Linked DNA regions of Homo sapiens: region 1 is linked to region 2. Evidence: fine-mapped expression QTL. A gene starts in region 2. The other region holds a variant in brackets. All regions are shown on one strand. Distances are between the middles of the regions.

Region 1 (10,108 bases), 790 kb before region 2:
AAAAGTTCTTTTAATCCTTGTACCTACTACTTTCTAATGTGAAATCCTTGCTCACTGTCTTTAAAATATGCTACTTCAACATGTTTGCTACACTATTTCATCTACATGGAATGCCCTTTCTCCACTTTTAGGTCTCAGGAAATTCTATCTACTTATTAAGGTGTACTTTTCAAGAACATACTGTTTTTATAAAGTTTTACTTGCCCATTCCTGCCGTGTACAAACTTACTTCTCTCAGCTCTGAATATTTAAAGTACTTATTTTTTATGTTAACTTTTACCATCATTTATTTTGCTGTCTTGTATTGTAATTATAAAAGATTGCCTGAGATAAAATGCTCCAGATTGGACAAACAGAACAAAAACCAAACCAAACCAAAAAGACCCCCAAACACACCCACTTTGATGGGAACAGTAGAAGCTACAACAACTGTTATTTCAAAATGGATGCACTCTGTCTTGCAAGAAGAGATAGAGATTTGAGCAATTCTAGGTGTACGTTCTTTATTTCGGGGAAGAAAATGGAATGGGTCCTTTAGTTGAAGTGGAACTCTTGCAACAATATACATTTTTATCCTGTAATAGTGCAGTGGCATAACCAGAAAAATATGTGATGATATTGCTATCTTGAGATAACAAGACCATTACATATGGTGAGTAGTATGGCTAAAAATCTTACTCTCTAAAACTCTGAGTATGTATCTCTTGAATTATTTAACAAGAACCTGCAAGGGGTGGAGCATTATGCTGTTGTCTAAAATTTATGCGTGTCTAGGAAATGATGTCTGTATCTTGTGAGCACCAGGGATATTCTTACATTTACCTAAATTTTTGTATGCAGGGTAGAGGGAAGCCTGCCTTACTTCCTCCCTCAAATGTTCAAGCCTGAATGGAACCTCTCTGGCACTGGTATTTCATGCAGTATCAGCTCAGCTTGAAACAATGAAAGTAGCATATCTGATCACAAGCAGTTGATCCCCAGACATGTTTATTGATGGCACTATGAAGGAAAACAGCATACTGACATACAATACAAAGAAACTTGGCAGACTTTATAGTGGCAATTCAGTTTTGGCATTTATATTGGTAAAAACAGATTACAAGGCTTAGTGTAACTCAAACCTTATTTAAGCTTGCAAAATGTCTGATTTGATCAGTTGGCATTCCACTGAGAGCAACACCTCTATCTCTAGGAATTCCTCTTAAGCAGTTTACATTCATGTAGTGCCTGTGCTTTGCTTTAAGTGTGTTATGTAATCGAATCATTTTTATTTTTTTCTGATTGACCCCATTCAAAAGATTCTACTGAGTCACCATGCCCATCAGCATAGTTTAAAAAAATTTAAATGAACAGTGACACTTAGTGGGTAGAAATATTCATTACAGTGCTCTTCCGTAAGAATCTCCATTAACACATCCCATGGTAATAAAGTAAATGATACCAAAATTTAGTCTTCTTGGCAAAGTAATATACAGTATTTGAAGTGTGTTGGTTTTGCAGCAGCTGTCATTCCATACCAATCCATTTAGTTAAAAAGCAAACAGGTGGCTCACACATATTGTTTTTACTACATAAATTTTTAAATTTTCTTCAGTCCTACTGAAATAAATGGGGCATTTTTGCTGTTGATTTCAGTTCACTAGAAAAAATATGTAACAATACAGTGGAGATATTATTAATAGCACTGTTCAAAGTGCATGCTTTCTTCTAAGCAGATATCTATTGACCCAAAATATGAACAAGTAACTTAAGTGAGACAAGTAAGTTACATGGATACTTGTGAGACTGAAACAAAACAAAACAAACAAACACAAGATTAATGTGTCCCAATTAATTCCTTTGTTTTGGTACTATGGCACACAAGAAGTAAAATTATAGTGAGGTTTTAAAAATATTTACTCCAAGATCAAGACTTTATTCCTTTAAGGTTTAGGTTAAGTTTTCCCTCAATTTTATTGCACTTATGGATTTATTTTTGACCTTTAAGGAAGGCTTTGTGACAATAATTAGTGTTTTATTTTCTTGCAAAATGAAAGCATGTTATCTTGCCTGAGGTTAATGTGTTTTTAAGTCTCTTGAGGTGCTGCGGTTGGAAAGCAATTTAGAATATTGTCTTCTGCCAGCTTCACATACAACAGAGAGATGAGTGGAAAATATCTGATTAGTGGGTGTGACAAAATATGGCAAGACAGTTATGGAAATATATGTAAACTATGTTGTTTGACTTACATATTGGTTTTTTAAGAACCAAAACAAATACAATGAAAAACATTTTTTGACAACTTAATTAGAGAGTGGGAAGAGGGAGGTGATACAGTAGTCTTTTACAAGTATAGCAAGAAGTCTCTTTCAAGTAAATTCAGTGTATAAAAAGCTGACTTTACAAAACAGATAAGTTATAGTGTGATTATGAGGTTTATGGAAGCATTTACCAAAGCCTGGAAGTAAATCATGTATCACTTAAAACATCCAAAACAATTATTTCGTTTAGATACTTTCCCAGTTGAGTGAATTGAGTGATTTAATAGCTTAATTCTCCACTCACTGGTTATATTGAACTCCCACTCCTTCTCTCAAATCCCCTCCCATTTGAATCCTCTCTCCCTGGTCAGTAGGGGATGATGCCTGTGGTCTCAGGGTAATATGGATTTACTCTTAACCCTTCATGTACTGTACTGTAATTGCCTGTAATTGTCATCTCTCACAGATGACAACCTCCTTGAGGATTGAGGTTGTATATCTTATTCACTGTCTAGCATGTAGCACAGTGCCCAGCATATAATAGGTGCTCATTAAATATTTAATGTTTGTAGGTGCCAGAATGTTGGAATAGAGCTAGAGGGATGAGGCAAAGTGAAATTCCTTTCTAGTCCCTTGGGGACAAGGAGAACCCCCCCTGCTTGTGGGGCTTTAATTTGTGTTTGCCCAGGTGGGATAGTTTCCAGACTATTGATGTTTCTTTTTGCTCTTGATAGCTTTGAGATATGGGTTTGGAGATCAGCCATCCTGTATAAAAGAAGCCATTCTGTTCCAGAGACCGTGTAGTTGGAATTCAGCTTCAGATGGTATTCAGCTTCAGATGGTATACAGATTCTTTAAATAATAATGCATTTAGACAGACTATGAAGGAGACTGTCTCTTCGTTTGAGAATGTGTAAAACAAAGTAATATGATAAAAAGAATGTTGTAGACCCTTTTGTAGTTCATGAGCATGATGATTGGGTGTTCACACACATGTGTGAAATGTGCCACCCTCAACCTTATTATGAGGTCAGCACATTACCCATCTGACATGAAAGAAAGGAAAAACCAAGAAAAGTATTGTATTGAGAAATAGGACATTAGGCCTTGTTTCACTACTAACTCTGTATTTAACCTTGACCTTATCATGTATCTCTTTTGTCTTAAATTTCTTTTAATTATTTTTGTTTTATTTATTTATTTTAAATTTTTTATAAATTTAGAGGGTACAACTGCAGATTTCTTACATGCATATATTGCATAGTGGTGAAGTCTGGGCTTTTAGTGTCCCCATCACCCAGACAGTGAACATTCTACCCAATAGGTAATTTTTCAGCCCTCATCCCTGCTCCCGGCCTCCCACCTTTTGTAGTCTGCAATGTCTGTTATTTTACTCTGTATGTCCATGTGTCCCCATTGTTTCGCTCTCACTTATAAGTGAGAACATGTGGTATTTAACTTTCTGTTTTTGAGTTATTTCAGTTAGGATTCTGGCCTCTAGTTGCATCCATGTTGCCAAAAAAGACATGATTTCCTTCTTTTTTATGGCTGAGTAGTGTTCATATATATATATATATATATATATATATATACACACACACACACACACACACACATACACCACATTTTCTTTATTCAGTCCTCCATTGATAGACACTTAGGATGATTCTGTATCTTTGCGATTGTGAATCATTCTGAAAGAAGTGCAGGTATCTTTTTGATATAATGAGTTCTTTCCATTGGATATATACCCAGTAATGGGATTGCTGGATTGAATTGTGATTCCATTTTCAGTTCTTTGAGAATTCTTCATACTGTTTCCCATAAAGGTTTTACTACCTTATAGTCCCACCAACAGTGTATAAGCATTCCCTTTTTTTTTTCTACAACCTTGCCAACATCTGTTTTGG[G/GT]TTTTTTTTTTTTTTTGACTTTTTTTAATAGTCATTCTGACTGGTATGAGATGGTAATTCATTGTGGTTTTTATTTGCATTTCTCTGATTAGTGATTTTAAGCACTTTTTCATATGTCTGTTGGCAACTTGTATGTCTTCTTTTGAAAAATATTTGTTCATGTCCTTTGCTCACTTTTTAGTAAAGTTATTTGGTTTTTTTCTTGTTGAGCTGTTTGAGTTTCTCATAGATTCTGGATATTAGCCCTTGTTGGATGCATAGTTTGCAAATATGTTTTCCAATTCTGTAGGTTTTGTGTTTATTCTGTTGATAGTTTCTTTTGCTGTGCAGAAGATTTTTGGTTTAATTAAGTCTCATTTGTCAATTTTTGTTTTTTACTTTGGATTTTGAAGACTTGATAACAAATTCTTTGAATAGGCCAATGTCCAGAAAAGTTTTTCCTAGGTTTTCCTGTAGGATTTTTATACTTACAGGTGATACATTTAGTTCCTTAATTTATCTTGAATTAATTTTTGTATATGGTAAGAAGTATGAGTCCAGTTTTATTCTTCTGCATATGACTATCCAATTTTCCCAGCATCATATATTGAAAAGGGTTTCCTTTCCTGAGTATGTGTATATATATATATATATTACTTTGTAGAAGATAAGTTGGTTGTAGGCTCATTGATTTATTTCTGGGTTCTCTATTCTGTTTCATTGACCTATGTGTCTATTTTTAGACCAGTACCATGCTGTTTTTGTTATTATGGCTGTGTAGTATTATTTGAAGTCAGGTACTATGATTTTTCCAGCTTTGTTCTTTTTGCTTAGGATTTGGCTATTTGGGCACTTTTTTGGTTTCATGTGAATTTTAGGATTGTTTTTTCTAATTCTGTGAAAAATAATGTTGGTAATTTGATAGAGATTTCATTGAATCTATAAATAACCTTGGGCGATGATATGGTTTGGCTCTGTGCCCCCACCCAAATTTCATCTTGGAGGTCTCATAATTCCCACATGTTGTGGGAGGGACCAGGTGGGAGATGATTGAATCATGGGGGTGGGTCTTTCCCATGCTGTTCTTGCGATGGTGAATGGGTCTCATGAAATCTGATGGTTTTAAAAACAGGAGTTTCTCTGCACAAGTTCTCTTTTTTGCCTGCTGCCCTCCACGTAAAATGTGACTTGCTCCTCCTTGCCTTCCGCCATAATTGTGAGGCCTCCTCAGCCATGTGGAACTGTAAGTCCAATTAACCTCTTTCTTTTGTAAATTGCCGAGTCTTGGGTATGTTTTTATCAGCAGCGTGAAAATGGACTAATATAGTAAATTGGTACTGGCAGTGGAGTGCTGCTGAAAAGATACCTGAAAATGTGGAAATGGCTTTGCAGCTGGGTAATAGGCAGAGGTTAGAACAGATTGGAGGGCTCAAAAGGAGGCAGAAAAATGTGGGAAAGTTTGGAACTTCCTAAGACAGGTTGAATGGCTTTGACAAAAATTCTGATAGTGATATGAACAATAAGGTCCAGGCTGAGGTAGTCTCAGATGGAGATGAGGAACTTGTTGGGAACTGGAGCAAAGGTAACTCTTGTTATGTTTTAGGAAACAGACTGGTGGCATTTTGTCCCTGTCCTAGAGATTTGTGGAACTTGGAACTTGAGAGAGATGGTTTAGAGTATCTGGCAGAAGAAATTTCTAAGCAGCAAAGCATTCAAAGGGTGACTTGGGTGCTGTTAAAGGCATTCAGTTTTATAAAGGAAGCAGAGCATAGAAGTTTGGAAAATTTGCAACCTGACAATGAGATAGAAAAGAAAATCCCATTTCTGAGGAGGAATCCAAGCCAGTTGCAGAAATTTGTATAAGTAACAAGGAACTGAATGTTAATTCCCAAGACAATGGGGAAAATGTCTCCAGGGCATGTCAGATGTCTTCATGGCAGCCCTTCCCATCAAAGGCCTGGAGGCCTAGGAGGAAAATGTGGTTTCTTGGGCCAAGCCCAGGGTCCCTGCACTGTGTGCAGCCTAGGGACTTGGTGCCCTATATCCTAGCTACTCCAGCCATGGCTGAAAGGGACAAATATAGAGCTCAGGCTGTAGCTTCAGAGGGTGCAAGCCTCAAGCCTTGGCAGCTTCCACATGATGTTAAGCCTGTGAATGCACAGAAGTCAAGAATTGGGGTTTGGGAACTTCCACCTAGATTTCAGAAAATGTATGGAAACTCCTGGATGCCCAGGCAGAAGTTTGCTCCTGGGGTGGGGTCCTCATGAAGAAACTCTGGTAGGGCAGTGCAGAAGGAAAACGTGGGGTGGGAGCCCCCATACAGAGTCCCTCCTGGGGCACTGCCTAGGGAGCCGTGAGAAGAGGGCCACTGTCCTCCAGACCCCAGAATCGTAGATCCACTGACAGCTTGCGCCATGTACCTGGAAAAGCCACAGACACTCAACGCCATCCCGTGAAGGCAACTGGGAGAGAGGCTGTACCCTGCAAAGCCACAGGGGTGAAACTGCCCAAGACTAGGGGAACCTACCTCTTGCATCAGCATGACCTGGATGTGAGGCACGGAATCAAGGGAGATCACTTTGGAGCTTTAAGATTTGACTGCCCCACTGGATTTCAAACTTGCATGGGCCCTGTAGCCCCTTAGTTTTGGCCAATTTCTCCCATTTGGAATGGCTGTATTTACCCAATGTGTGTACCCGTATTGTATCTAGGAAGTAACTAGCTTGCTTTACATTTTACAGACTCATAGGTGGACAGGATTTGTCTTGTCTAATGAGACTTTGGACTGTGGACTTTTGAGTTAATGCTGAAATGAGTTGAGACTTGGGGGACTGTTGGGAAGGCATGATTGGTTTTGAAATATGAAGATATGAGATTTGGGAAGGGGCAGGGATGGAATAGTATGGTTTGGCTCTGTGTCCCCACCCAAGTCTCATCTTGGAGATTCCATAATCCCCACATGTTGTGGGAGGGACCAGGTGGGAGTTGATTAAATCATGGGGTGGGTTTTTCCTGTGCTGTTCTCATGATAGTGAATGGTCTTATGAGACCTGATGGTTTTAAAAACGGGAGTTTCTCTGCACAGGCTCTCTCTTTTTTTTTTGCCTGCTGCCATCCACATAAGATGTGACTTGCTCCTCCTTGCCTTCTGCCATGATTGTGAGGCCTCCCCAGCCATGTGGAACGGTAAGTCTAATAAACCTCTTTCTTTTGTAAATTGCCCAGTTTCGGGTATGTCTTTATCAGCAGTGTGAAAAAAGACTAATACAGGCAGTATGTCATTTTAACAATATTGATTTTTCCAAATCATGACCAAGGGTTGGAAGCATGGTATGTTTTTCTGTTTGTGTCATCTATGACTTTTTATAACAGTAATTTGTTGTTTCCTTATAGGGATTTTTTACCTCCTTGATTAAATATATGCCTGGTATTTTATTTTATTTTTTATAGCATTGTAAGTGGAATTGCCTTCTTGATTTGGTCCTCAGCTAGATTATTATTGCTGTATAGAAACAGTACTGATTTTTGTATGTTAATTTTTTATCCTGAAACTACTGAATTCATTTATCAAATCTAAGAGTTTTTTGGTGGACTCTGTAGGGTTTTCTGGATATAAGATAATATCATTAGCAAACAGGGACAATTTAACTTCCTCTTTTCTAATTTGGATGCCCTTTATTTTTTTGCTCTTGCTTGATTGTGCTGGTGAGGACTTCCAGTGCTATGTTAAATAAAAGTAGTGAAAGTAGGCATACTTGTCTCATTCCAGTTCTTAGAGGGAATGCTTTCAAACTTTTCCTGTTAAGTATGTTGTTGGCTATAGGTTTGTCATATGTTGCCTTTATTATGTTGAAGTATGTTTTGTTCTATGCCTAGTTTGTTGAGGATTTTTATGATGAAAGGGCATTGAATTTTATCAATTGCTTTTTCCACTTTAATAGAGATGATCATATGGTTGTTGTTCTTAATTCTGTTTATGTAATGTATCACATTTATTGATTTGGGAATGTTGAACCATCTTTGCATTCCTGGTATAAATCACTCTTGATCATGGTGTATTATCTTTTTGATATGCCGTTGTATTCAACTTGCTTGTATTTTGTTGAAGATTTTTGAATCTATATTAATCAGGGATATGGGTCTGTACTTTTCTTTTTTTGTTGTGTCCTTGTCTGCTTTTGGTATCAGGGTGATCCTGGCCTTATGGAATGAGTGAGGGAGAATTCCCTTCTCTTCAATTTTTTGGCATAGTTTTGGGAGAATTCATCTTTGTTTTTCTTTGTATGTTTGGTAGAATTTGGCTGCAAATTTATCTGGTCCTGGGATTTCTTTTGGCAGTTTTTTAAAATGACTTTGAAATGCCACTTAATGTTTTTCTGGCCTGTAAGGTTTCTTCAGAAAAGTCCACTGTTAGTCTGATGAGAGTTGTTTTTTTTTTTTTTTTAATAGATGACTAGGTGCTCTTCTCTAGTCAGTTTAAAAATTCTTTGTTTCACTTTGACTTTAGACATTCTTAATATAATATGCTATGGGAAGTCCTTTTTGTAATGTATTTGCCTAGGGATGGCTGGACCTTCTCTATTTGGATGTCAACTTTCTTGATAGACTTGGAAATTTTTCACTGATTATTTTCTAAAGTAGGTTTTCTAAATTTGATCTCTCTGCTCCCTTGGGAATAATGATAATACATAAGTTTGGTCACTTTGTGTAGTCCCAGATGTCTCAAAGCCTTTTTTAATTCTTTTATTTAGTTTTTTCCTTATTTTTGTCTGACTGGAATATTTCAAAAGACCTGTTTTCAAATTTACAAGAAAAAAACAAACAACCCCATTAAAAAGTGGGCAAAGGACATGAACAGACACTTCTCAAGAGATGACATTCATGTGGCCAACAAATATATTTTAAAAAGCTCAACATCACTGATGATTAGAGAAATGCAAATCAAACCCACAATGAGATACCATCTCATGCCAGTCAGAATGGTGATTATTAAAAAGTCAAGAAAGCGCAGATGCTGGTGAGGCTGTGGAGAAAAAGGAACACTTTTTCACTGTTGGTGGGAATGTAAGTTATTGTGGAAGATCTAGAAGCAGAAATAACATTTGATCCAGCAATCCCAATACTGGATATATACCCAAAGGAATATAAATCATTCTATTATAAAGATAAATGCATGCATGTGCTCATTGCAGCACTATTCACAATGCAAATATATGGAATCAACCCACATGCTCATCAATAATAGACTAAACAAAGAAAATGTGGCACATATACACCATGGAATACTATGCAGCCATAAAAAAGAAATGAGATCATGTCCTCTGCAGGGATATGGCTGGAAGCCATTATCCTCAGCAAACTAATACAGGAACAGAAAATCAAATACCACATGTTCTCACTTATAAGTGGGAGCTGAATGATAACAACACATGGACACATGGGGAGGAACAACACACACTGAGGCCTCTCAGAGGGTAAGGGGTGGGAGGAGAGAGCATCAGGAAGAATAGCTAATGGATGCTGGGCTTAATACCTAGGTTATAGGTTGATCTGTGCAGCAAACCACCATGGCACACATTTACCTATGTAACAGACTGCACATCCTGCATTGGTACCCTGGAACGTAAAATAAAAATTGAAGGAAAGAAAAAGATTTGTTTTCAAGTTCTGAGATTTTTTTCTTCTGCTTGATCTAGTCTATTATTGAAGCTTTCAAATGTATTTTGTATTTTCTTCAATGAATTTTTTACATCCACAATATCTGCATTTTTTTAAAAGATATCTATTTCCTTGGTAAATTTCTCATCCATATTCTGAACTTTTTTGTACTGTTTTTCATATTTCTCTTGCACCTCATTGAGCTTTGTTAAAATCAATATTTTGGTTTATTTATCTGGCATTTTGAGGCATTCTTTTTTATTTGGATCTGCTGCCATGCAATTGTTGTGTGGTGTCAAAAATCCCTACTTTTTCATGTT
Region 2 (9,936 bases):
TGTTTCTACACTAACCTCCTTCTGTCTGTTGTCAACAGCTGAAAGAGTGAGCCTTCCTAAATCGTATCATGTCCCACTTAGATTTCAAACTCTTCGGTGGCTCCGTATCACAACCAGAGTATAAAAGCAAGTACTTAAAATGGTCTGTGAAGCCCTGCATGATCTGCTCCAATGTCCCCGCTTCTGCAACCACTTCCACTACTCTCCCTCTTGCTCAATCTATTCCAGGCTCACTGGCCTCCTTGTTATTCTTCAAATAGGTCAGGCAGGGTTTTGCTTTAGGACCTTAACTCTAGTTCTTCATGGAAATGTCTTCCTACAGATACCTCCAGAATGTCTAACTCATTCATGACCTCTAAGTTTTTGCTCAAATCTTGCCTTTTCAATAAAGCTACCCAAGTACTCCATTTAGAGCTACAACCTACTCTGTCATCTCCCTACCCCTTAACCTTGACTTAGGTTTCCTTATTTTTCAATAGCATTTATCATCTTCTCACATGGTTTATAATTTACTTACTCATCATTTTTACTTACTATTGTCTGTTCTCCCTGCTAGAATGTAAGCTCCAAAAAAGCAAGGACATTCCTCCCCTCCTATTGATGTATGTTTTCCACATCTAAAATAGTGTTACATTATACATGCTCAATAAATAATTATTGAGTAAATGAATTGTTCTATCTAAATGAAATTTCTTAGTGATATAAAATAAACTCCATTAATGTTGGTTTCCATTAGCTGGTATGTCTTATTTATTTTATATATATATATATATATATATATATATATATGATTTATATGAGGCAAGTAGGCTCTGGGTTTGTGATTGAAATTTGCTGAGGAGCTGTGACTCTTTTCTCTCCCTCATTCATATAGTGGGAAAGAGAAAATGAGGTGGCAACAGATAGGAAAAAGAACTGCAGTTAATTTATTGTTTACATTTTACTGGTAAATGTGCTGGTTAATTGAATATCTAAACTTATGATAAGACCAATGCCACCAAGATTCAGAAGAAATTCCATAGTTAGACATAATCCTGTAAGCTTTATAGTCACCAGAAAGGATGTACCCTGTGTAAGAGAAGTAATTAAATTGGCTAATCTTGGTCAAAACAATGTGTTTCCTTGGCTATTTCTCTAGTTATATTTTCTACTGCCATTTAAAAACTTTTAAAGCCTTTTTTCTTTTATGGTGTAAACAATTTTATTATATTCTGAAATACAGCACTATGGTTGGGGATGGAGAGAAAAGGGGACATACAATGTTTAAGAAACCACATTCTGCAGCCATACTCTCAGATTTGCTAGTCACTATGCAACTGCATTTGTGGGTAGTGAAATACAATTATCCACCTTACTTTTCACATTTGTAAAGTGGGAATAATAACATATACCTGATGGAGTTGTTTTGAGAAATAACACTTCACAACACACAATGCCTAGTACGTCGTATTCACTCTATAACTATTTTTATAAAGTAAAGAAGGATTTTATTAAAAGAAAAATATTTAAAAAGCAAATTTTTTAAATAGACATGACATTTTCATAAAATGCTATTGTTCATACAGTATTAACTTGACTCATGGAGGCAAATTAACATTACTGTTATTTAAAAAAAACTCTATGGCCTTATTTGAATTTTTATACTAGAATATTTAAAATTTGAAACACTAGTTTTAGAGAGAGAGATGCTGTGTTGTTCAAAGTCCTCCTCTGCATCTTCATGGTAGGAACTTTCTTTGGTAGCCCTTTCTCTAAGTTAAGAGATATATTGGCAGGAACTATGAAGGATCTGATATTTTACCCTAGTTATAAGCAAACAAGTAGAGTGCCACAGTTTCATGGAAGTTGGCAGAATGTGTGAGATTCCTGAGTCTGAGACAAATAACTTTATTACTCAAAGCACAACAGGCACCATGAGCTTCATACTTCCATAGATTCCCCTCGTTCTGAAGTCCCACAAGGCGAAGAGGAGCTGCCAGATGGGTGTTGTACATGCACTGTGTTTGTTATGCAACTGGAAGAACTCCAAGCTTAGGAAAGTCCTAAGAAGGCTGCTAGCAAACGTACCCAAACTTTGCCCTGGCAGGAAATACTATCTTTGCAATTAAATGTGCAGAAAGGCAAGAAACCCATGGGGCCTTAACTCCCAACTGCACAAATGCAGCTGCATCAATAAGGCTATTTTGATGAAAACAAGATGCACAAAAATTTTGACCACAGAATCAGACTAACATTGTAAATGTAAACACTCAATCCTTCCTAAGCAGTTCTTTGAATATGTAGTTAATCCGTTGGAATAAAATTTTGCAATGGTTTGTTCTTTCTAGCGCTTTATCATTTGATACCTTCATAAGCCATGCATTTTTCCCTTTTGCCACGTAGGTTTTACCCTTCCCCTCTATTTATTTATGCCAATAATTTAACCTTAGTGGCTTAAGTATTTCTTACAGCATTGAAGGAACTTACAGACACTTTCCCAAGAGTAGCTAGGACATCGGCAATCTTCCTTTCTCTCTGCTGTTTCCTCTGAGAATTGTTTCACAAGGTCCAACATCCTCTTCTGTAGCATAGCTGAACAACAGATACTCAGCTCTGCAAGGCTGATTTCCTTTGTGAATAGTTAACATTTTTTTGATAGCCTTATTTTTAAGAAACATGTTAGCCCTTCTCTTGTTCTTCAGAGATAACTCAAAATAATATCATTTGGTTTTTTCATTTGTTCATAAGCCAAAGCTACAGCTGCCTTGTCCTTTTAAAGTCAGAGCTACAAAATTCATTTGAGTTCCAGAGATAAATCAGACTTGTCCATTGCTATTACTTAATAAGCCAAAGTAATTGAACATTTAACAAGAGTTTGCCCAAAGGCTGAGTCAGATTATATACAGGACACCGTCTATATTATCAGTGTATAAACAGCAAATAAGTTTTTAGTGTATGTTCACGTCCTGTGCAATATTTGGGACATACTTACACTAAAAAAGTTTATTTGGAAATCAACTTTAACTAGATATCCTGTTTATTTGCCAACATGCCACAATTCAGGTCACCATTTATCTACCAAACAGAATCAATAACCTGTTCGTCCAATGTGGCCTCAAGTGGGTTTTGGCGCAGAAGCACTCCTCCTGGACCACAGGTGTGGTCCTGGTTGCAAAGTTTTGATGTGACATCAACACTACACAAAAGTAAATGTAACTGCAAAATTTTGAAATTCACAGATGGGTCTTTGAAGTCCAGCTCAAAAGCGTGGAGGGCTGGTTAAAATAAGTCACAGACTTGCCGGTTTGGGGTTTCTAGAAAGAAAAGTAACTTGAGGAGTTGAAGGCTTGTAGAAGACCTTTCCACAGAGAGTGGGAATTCCGTTGCAGCAGCCAAGGCTTCTTCGGGATTTAGAAGGAGAGCGCGCGAGAACCTGAGGGAGCCAGTAAGAGTCGAGCAGGGACTGGAGGGCTCCCGATGGGGTGTAGCCAATCAGGGCAGAGATGGGTGGGGCTAGGCTGCGGGAAGGGGCGGACTGCAGCTGAGTTGGCTCCAAAGTGTGGGACTCAGCCAATCGGAACCGTGCAGGGCGGGGCTGGCCTGCGGAAGGGGGCGGGTTCGGAGGAGTGAACTGTGCGGTTAGTGCGCCTTTCAGCCTCACCTGCAGCTGCGCCTCCTTGCACCTGCGCCTGTGCTTTTTCTCCCAGCACTGCGGACGCGACTCGAGGGTGACGCTCGCTCCGCTCGTCCCGCTCGTCATGGCCTACCCGGGATACGGAGGAGGGGTGAGTCCCAGCCGCTTGGTCGTGTCCCTCTTCCTCGCGGGGTGTGGCGCCCCCGGGGGCGGTGCCAACGTGCGGGTCCGCCCTTGGCTCCTGCTCCCTGCGTCCGCGCCTGGTACTCGGCGGCGCCGGATTCCGGGGCTGTTGGGGGCCAGGGCCTGGGCGAGCATTGATCCTGGGCTGACTTGGAGCCGCAGGTTTTCTGGTCGTTGAGGACCCTCGAGGAGCGTCCTGGTGGAGCCGAGGGAGTAATGTGTGTTTGGAAATTTATTTCCTGGAATGGAGGAACAAGCCACCCTCTTCTTGTTCCAGTAATCGTTTGTGGTACTTCCCTCCCCCGCCCCCCACTCAGTGTTGCTAGAGATCCTCTTTTTGAATTTCCTGACCACTTCTTGTTCTTTAAGTTCCTTATGAATAAATTAAGGTGTACGGTAAATAACTCCTAATCTTTACTGTTATACGAAGGGCAATCTGTTCTAGACTCCCCCGCTCGCCCCCAGGCGGGGGGAAGTTACTCTTTGTTATAACTTTTATCCTGCATCACCTTTGGGAGTTGCAAGTTATAATCGTAGAGTCCTGGTGGCTAGCCCCTTCTTTTCAGAAAGGAGCCCAAACCTTTAGTATCGATGTCAGTGATCTACACGCTGTGTTAACAGAGTTAACAGTAGTTTGATCCATTGCGGTGTGGGTAGAATATAATATATTTTCTATTTGTTTTTTACCTAAAAAGAGAAATTGTGTTTTACTGATTTTAATATAGGACTTGACTTTGGGCTATGGTTGTGGTCTTCAAAAGAGTTACTCCTACCCCTTGGAGTTCATGGTGGTGGTGGTGGTGGTGGTGGTGGTGGTGGTGGTGGTGGTTGTGGTTGTGGTTGTTGTTGTTGTTTTAGGATATGAATTTCCAGGTCCTCAACTTCCACACATACTTGTTCCTAAAATTGATTTGCTTTCCTTAAGACTTGCCTCAATCCCCTCTGGCACCGTCCACTTTGTAATGCCTATGCCTCCTCAGTCCTTAAATTTAGGAAGGAAGTTTAAGGTACCTAAGGAAAGTAAAGCCCCTTCGAAGATTAATCAAGATAGCATAAACCTGTGGGTCTTTAAAAACGTCCCTAGCGTATACGTATTTTCATTTGGTTGAAGCTATCTGTTAGAAGTTTGTATATTTACTCCTCTTGGTATGCTCTGAATTCATATATGTATGGTAGAGTGAGGTGGCAAGAGTAATACATTTTCATTCAAATAATTTGGTGCTTCCTTACCCACTTTTGTCAGAGTGCTTGAATTTGATGGAGAGTTCCACGACACAATAAAGAGAACGTCTGTATGTGTTTTGAATATTTAAATCCCCTTTTCCATGAATTTAAAATAAACAACTCTTTTCAGCTGTTGTCATGCTCATTATTAATCGCCGGAAAGAGAAGTACCCTCAATAGCTGAAGCAATATATAGATTAGAGGCACTGATTTTAAAAAATGTAATTGAAATATTTTAAGATACATTGGATAAAATTTTGGGATAAAACTTACATGATTTCTTTAGTAGGAGAATATTAATAAGATAGTTGAGACGTTTATAAATCCTGTTAAAGGAAACCCATGCCTTATTAATGTTTCTTATATTCTTTTAACAAAATATAAAATGTCAGCTGCTAGACCTAATTGTTTTGATAGTATACTTTTATCTAATTAAGTGCATGATTTATCTCTGTAGGAGATGCATTTCCAATAGATTTTTACTTTCTTCTTTTAAGAATTGTTTATAAAAATTGTATTATTTTCTTTTTTTTACTAATTGTATACGAATAAAAATTATAACTCAATGTAAAGGACTTTTTTCTTTGTTTCTCACTTTGGTCACAGGAAATGAAACAATCTAAAACTTCGTTACATGTTTTTGTTTGTACATGTTGTATTATACAAGCTTCAGTGTTTTCAATAATAAAAAAACATTTTAAGCACAGAAAACTTAAACAGATTAGATTTTCACACAAGAAATAGCATACAAAATCAATTCAAAGATGAAGAATCTGTCCTTAGGAATAACTTTTAATCTGTTTTCCCTTCCCAATTTGCAGCATTAGCTTTCCCCAGTCCCATAATTTGAGAACCTGGTGGTCAGATTAATGATGGTTACCAATTCTTTACCACTCCCCTTATCGAAAGGCACAGACTATTTCTCCACTTTCTTCAATCTGGATTGGGCCTGTTTCACCTTCATCTGGTAGAATACAGTAGAAAAGACACCATGGCAGTTCCAGACTCAATATTTTAAGAGGACTGGCAGCTTCTCTTTCTCTCTCTTAGAAGCTGACTGCCAAGCTATGAAAAAGTGGAAGAGCCATGTGAAAGGGCCCATGTGGAGGAGAACTGGGGCCCCTGGCCAACAAGGTTCATCCCTAAACACGGTTTACATAAATTTATATTTCAAGTTGTCCTCTTGACAGTTTCAAATGAGTCAAAATTGATCATTATTATTATTACTACATAATGTGGGTAAGGAAAGGCTTAGACAATATTTTCATGTCCAAGCCTTTCATGTTGCTTTGCATGTTTTTGAATCTTTACTATTGCCATTTTGTTATGGCTTTAGTTAAAACTAGATCACATAATCTGTAACATCAGAGAATCCCACATATATAAACTGTAATAAGTCACAATAGGCTGAAAAGAAACAAGTGGGAGGCCAGCATACAGAACTCTATGTCATCCCTCAGGATACTACCAGAACCACAGCAGTTTCTTTAAACATTTTGCTTCCCGCCCCTTAAAAGATTTTTGAAAAACTATATACCCTTTTCCCATATTTTATATTGACATATAAAGTTTTTATTTTAAGTTTAAATAGTTGTAAAGAATACAATACCCAACATATTGTAAATGTTGACACTTAAAGTTTCATTGTATTTACACATATATTCTTCTAAGTATGTGTCTTGAGGTTTACTTCTTAGTTTTACTTTAGGTAAAATCTTGCATTGTTTTACTTTTTGTTTACTTCAGTGATGTTGGTAAACATTTTTTAAAATTGTACATGTTCCTCTTAGATTAAGTTCTTAGAGGCTAGTAACTTTCTTTTTTCTTTTATACTTCTTTTAATGCTGGGTAATATATGTTGATGAATTGAATTATGTCTTAATGTAGGACATCTAACATTTTGTAGTTAAAATTTTTGTGATAAGATTATAAGCTTTTGGTAACTGTTTACTTTTTGACGGACTTCTAATAATTTCTTTTAATCCAACTTTCATAGATAATAGGTAGTATTTATATTACTAACCTTCTCCCCTTTCACTATTATAGTTTGGAAATTTTAGCATTCAGGTGCCAGGAATGCAGATGGGACAGCCAGTGCCAGAAACAGGCCCAGCTATACTCCTCGATGGATACTCTGGGCCAGCATATTCAGACACTTATTCCTCAGCTGGTGACTCCGTGTATACTTACTTCAGTGCTGTTGCTGGACAGGTGAGATGCTAAATTTATTGCATAAATATGTCTTTAAAATTATTGTTTAAGAGAAATGTCAGCTATTTAGAGTATCATTTTAAATGTATATGAAATTTATATTTTATATGTATCTAGACTAATTTTTTTCCTGAGATCAGAGATGAGCATAGTCATAATTATTTCATTTTAAAAGTCTGTTGATGTGATGCTTGATACATTGTTCATTTGACTAAAAGAGGAAACATTGTTTTCCATAGTGCGGAAATCTGATTCTTTCTTACCTAGTATGCTTGCGTTACTGAAATTCTTCTACAAGGGGCTCCTCTTACTAGTCACTAAACACCCCACCAAAACTTAGATATATCTTCTTATGAGTTATAATTTTTCTGTCACTTAAATCTTTTTATTTCCTTCACTCTGTTTGACATTTAGGAGCATCATACTCTCCCTGAGTGATAGATAACACAAAGCTAAGTAGGTTTAGCCTGCACATTCTTTTATAGCATGCAAAAATGACTATTGGAAATTTTAGGAAAGTAGGAAGCACTTTAAAAAATTATAAGGAACAATATTTCTAACTTGGGCCTCACTCCCATTTTTTAAAAAAAACTCAGTTAAAACCTAAGTATGTCAAACAATATGATTGGAAATCACTTCAGAGTCTCGTAAATTTATTCAGGTTGAGAAATTACATTTTTTTCACAGGTGAAGTTATATCATTTATAGTAATTTTGATTTGATATGGCTGGTAAATTTTCCAGGTTATCAAAATAATCATGTCAGGATTTATTAATTAAAAATTAAAGGAAATAGTATGTTACGATGTGGTATGGTTTTAGGATGTTATTTGTTTCCAGTAAATTTGAGTGATTATTTAAAGGACTGACTTTATTATGACCAATAGGGACGTGTGAAACTGCCAGTTCAAGTACATGAATTCTGTGGGTGAATTGTTACTGATGATATGTGAATACTGTGGTCAACGGAAGCTTTTCTTTTACTCCTACATAACTGTAACACCATACCACAGTTTATTCTTTTCCAAGTGATTTTATATATATTTTTCATGTGAAATTTCAAGGAAAATTAAGCAAATAGGATATGTATTATACCCCTTTGTATCAGTTATTAGTTGTATTTGACAGAAGTATTGAGTAAATATTCAAGATCGGAAGGAATACAATATTATAAGATGCCAATGTCTTCCAAATTAATTGATAAATAATATAATATTATATGAGTCAAATTCCTAAAGGTTTCTTTTTCTTTTTTCTTTTTGGCACTTGCTGCAATGATTCTAAAGTCTGTCTTGTATACTATGTTGTTGAGAATAAATATTAAATTATAATATATCATATAAATGTATTATTAATAATTGTGATAGTGTGGTCCTAATGTAAAAACAAACATAATACTGAAGAGCCCAGAAGCTTACCTGTGAATTCAGTATATGGTAGAGGTAGCATTTCATATCAGTGGGGAAAGAATGATTCCTGAATTAACTATCCTGAAATAATTAACAGTTTATCTAAAAGTAAATGTAAATCTTCAGCCTGTACCATATAGTAGCATGAATTCCAGATATATTAAAGGATTGAAAAGAGGGTGTATTGATGTTTATCTCCTGTTGTTGAAATAAATGAGCTTGTCTTTTTTTTTTTGCTGCTGCTTCAGCATGTATTGCAGCACCTGCTATATTTGTGTTTTTGTCTACAAAACTTCTTAGAAGAGTGATGAACTAAGATAGTTGCATGTGTTAATGAAACATTTGGGAACATCTTTTTAAGATGTGTGTTTTTTTTTCTTGATATGTTTCATTCACTTGTTTAACAATTTGGGGGGAAAGTTGAAAGCTCTTCTGTGGTTATGGAATACAGTGGATTGGTGCATGGAGACTGGGGGCCAGAGAGGATTTGGAAAAAGAGATCTACATGAAAATCATCTTGAAGGAGTTGGGGCAATGTATCAAAGAGGAGATTTGTAAATTGTGGATGGTTCTGGGACAGGCTCGATGATAAAACAGATTAGGAAAAGGCAAAGAAACTGGCAGAATGGATGTTCTAATACCATACTAATGGGCAGAAACAGAAATTCACTCTAGAGTCTTAGCTGTAGTCCATATCTCTTTTCTTTTATAATGGTCAAGAAAGATTTATTGATGTAGGTAGAATTTTATAGAACTTTAATAACATTTTATTCATTCCCTTGAGTGTTCACTAGGTCTAATGTGCTTTTCTAGGATTAGACAATATACACAGAATTAATATACGTGGCAGACATTCTGTTTTGGCTACCCCAATTTCATTTAAAACCCCCTTTTACCTTTTATTATGTAATAGAGGCTGGGGAACTATAATAGTCACCATCCCAGATACCTTTGTAGCTATTAAAGGCAGCCATGTGCCGTAGGACTGACCATTGACATGTAGGTGCAGTATCTTTGGAAAATCTTTCTACCCCAAATGAAAAAAGCCTTACTGGGAGCAAGCCTTGGCTGTGGCTGTTTTTGCCCCTTCATTCTTCCTGCCTGGAAAGGGGACTTGAGGTATGGAGGTGCAGTAGCCATCTCGTGACCCTGAGACAACAGGCTTGAGATAAAGACCTATAGATAGGGAATGTGGAAAAATGTAGAGACTGATGACATGTCTAAGTTGCCATACAGCCCTGTTCTGCCTAGCCTCAGACCTATTGTATGAAACAATAAACCCCTATTGGTTTAAGCA

Evidence for each region.
Region 1: its variant is fine-mapped to the expression of GCA in whole blood (INTERVAL, PIP above 0.99).

Annotation. Positions count from the first base shown.
Region 1 is chr2:161,555,354-161,565,461 of GRCh38, forward strand. LOC124906148 (small nucleolar RNA U13) reads left to right here and starts at 3,191; the gene lies at 3,191-3,293. The variant G/GT (reference allele first, on the strand shown) is at 4,152.
Region 2 is chr2:162,340,512-162,350,447 of GRCh38, forward strand. It overlaps GCA (grancalcin), which reads left to right and starts at 3,621. Exons shown (of 8, transcript NM_012198.5): 1 at 3,621-3,764; 2 at 7,067-7,231. The coding sequence starts at 3,738. RefSeq lists enhancers at 3,178-3,407, 3,260-3,429 and silencers at 3,458-3,607, 3,848-3,927.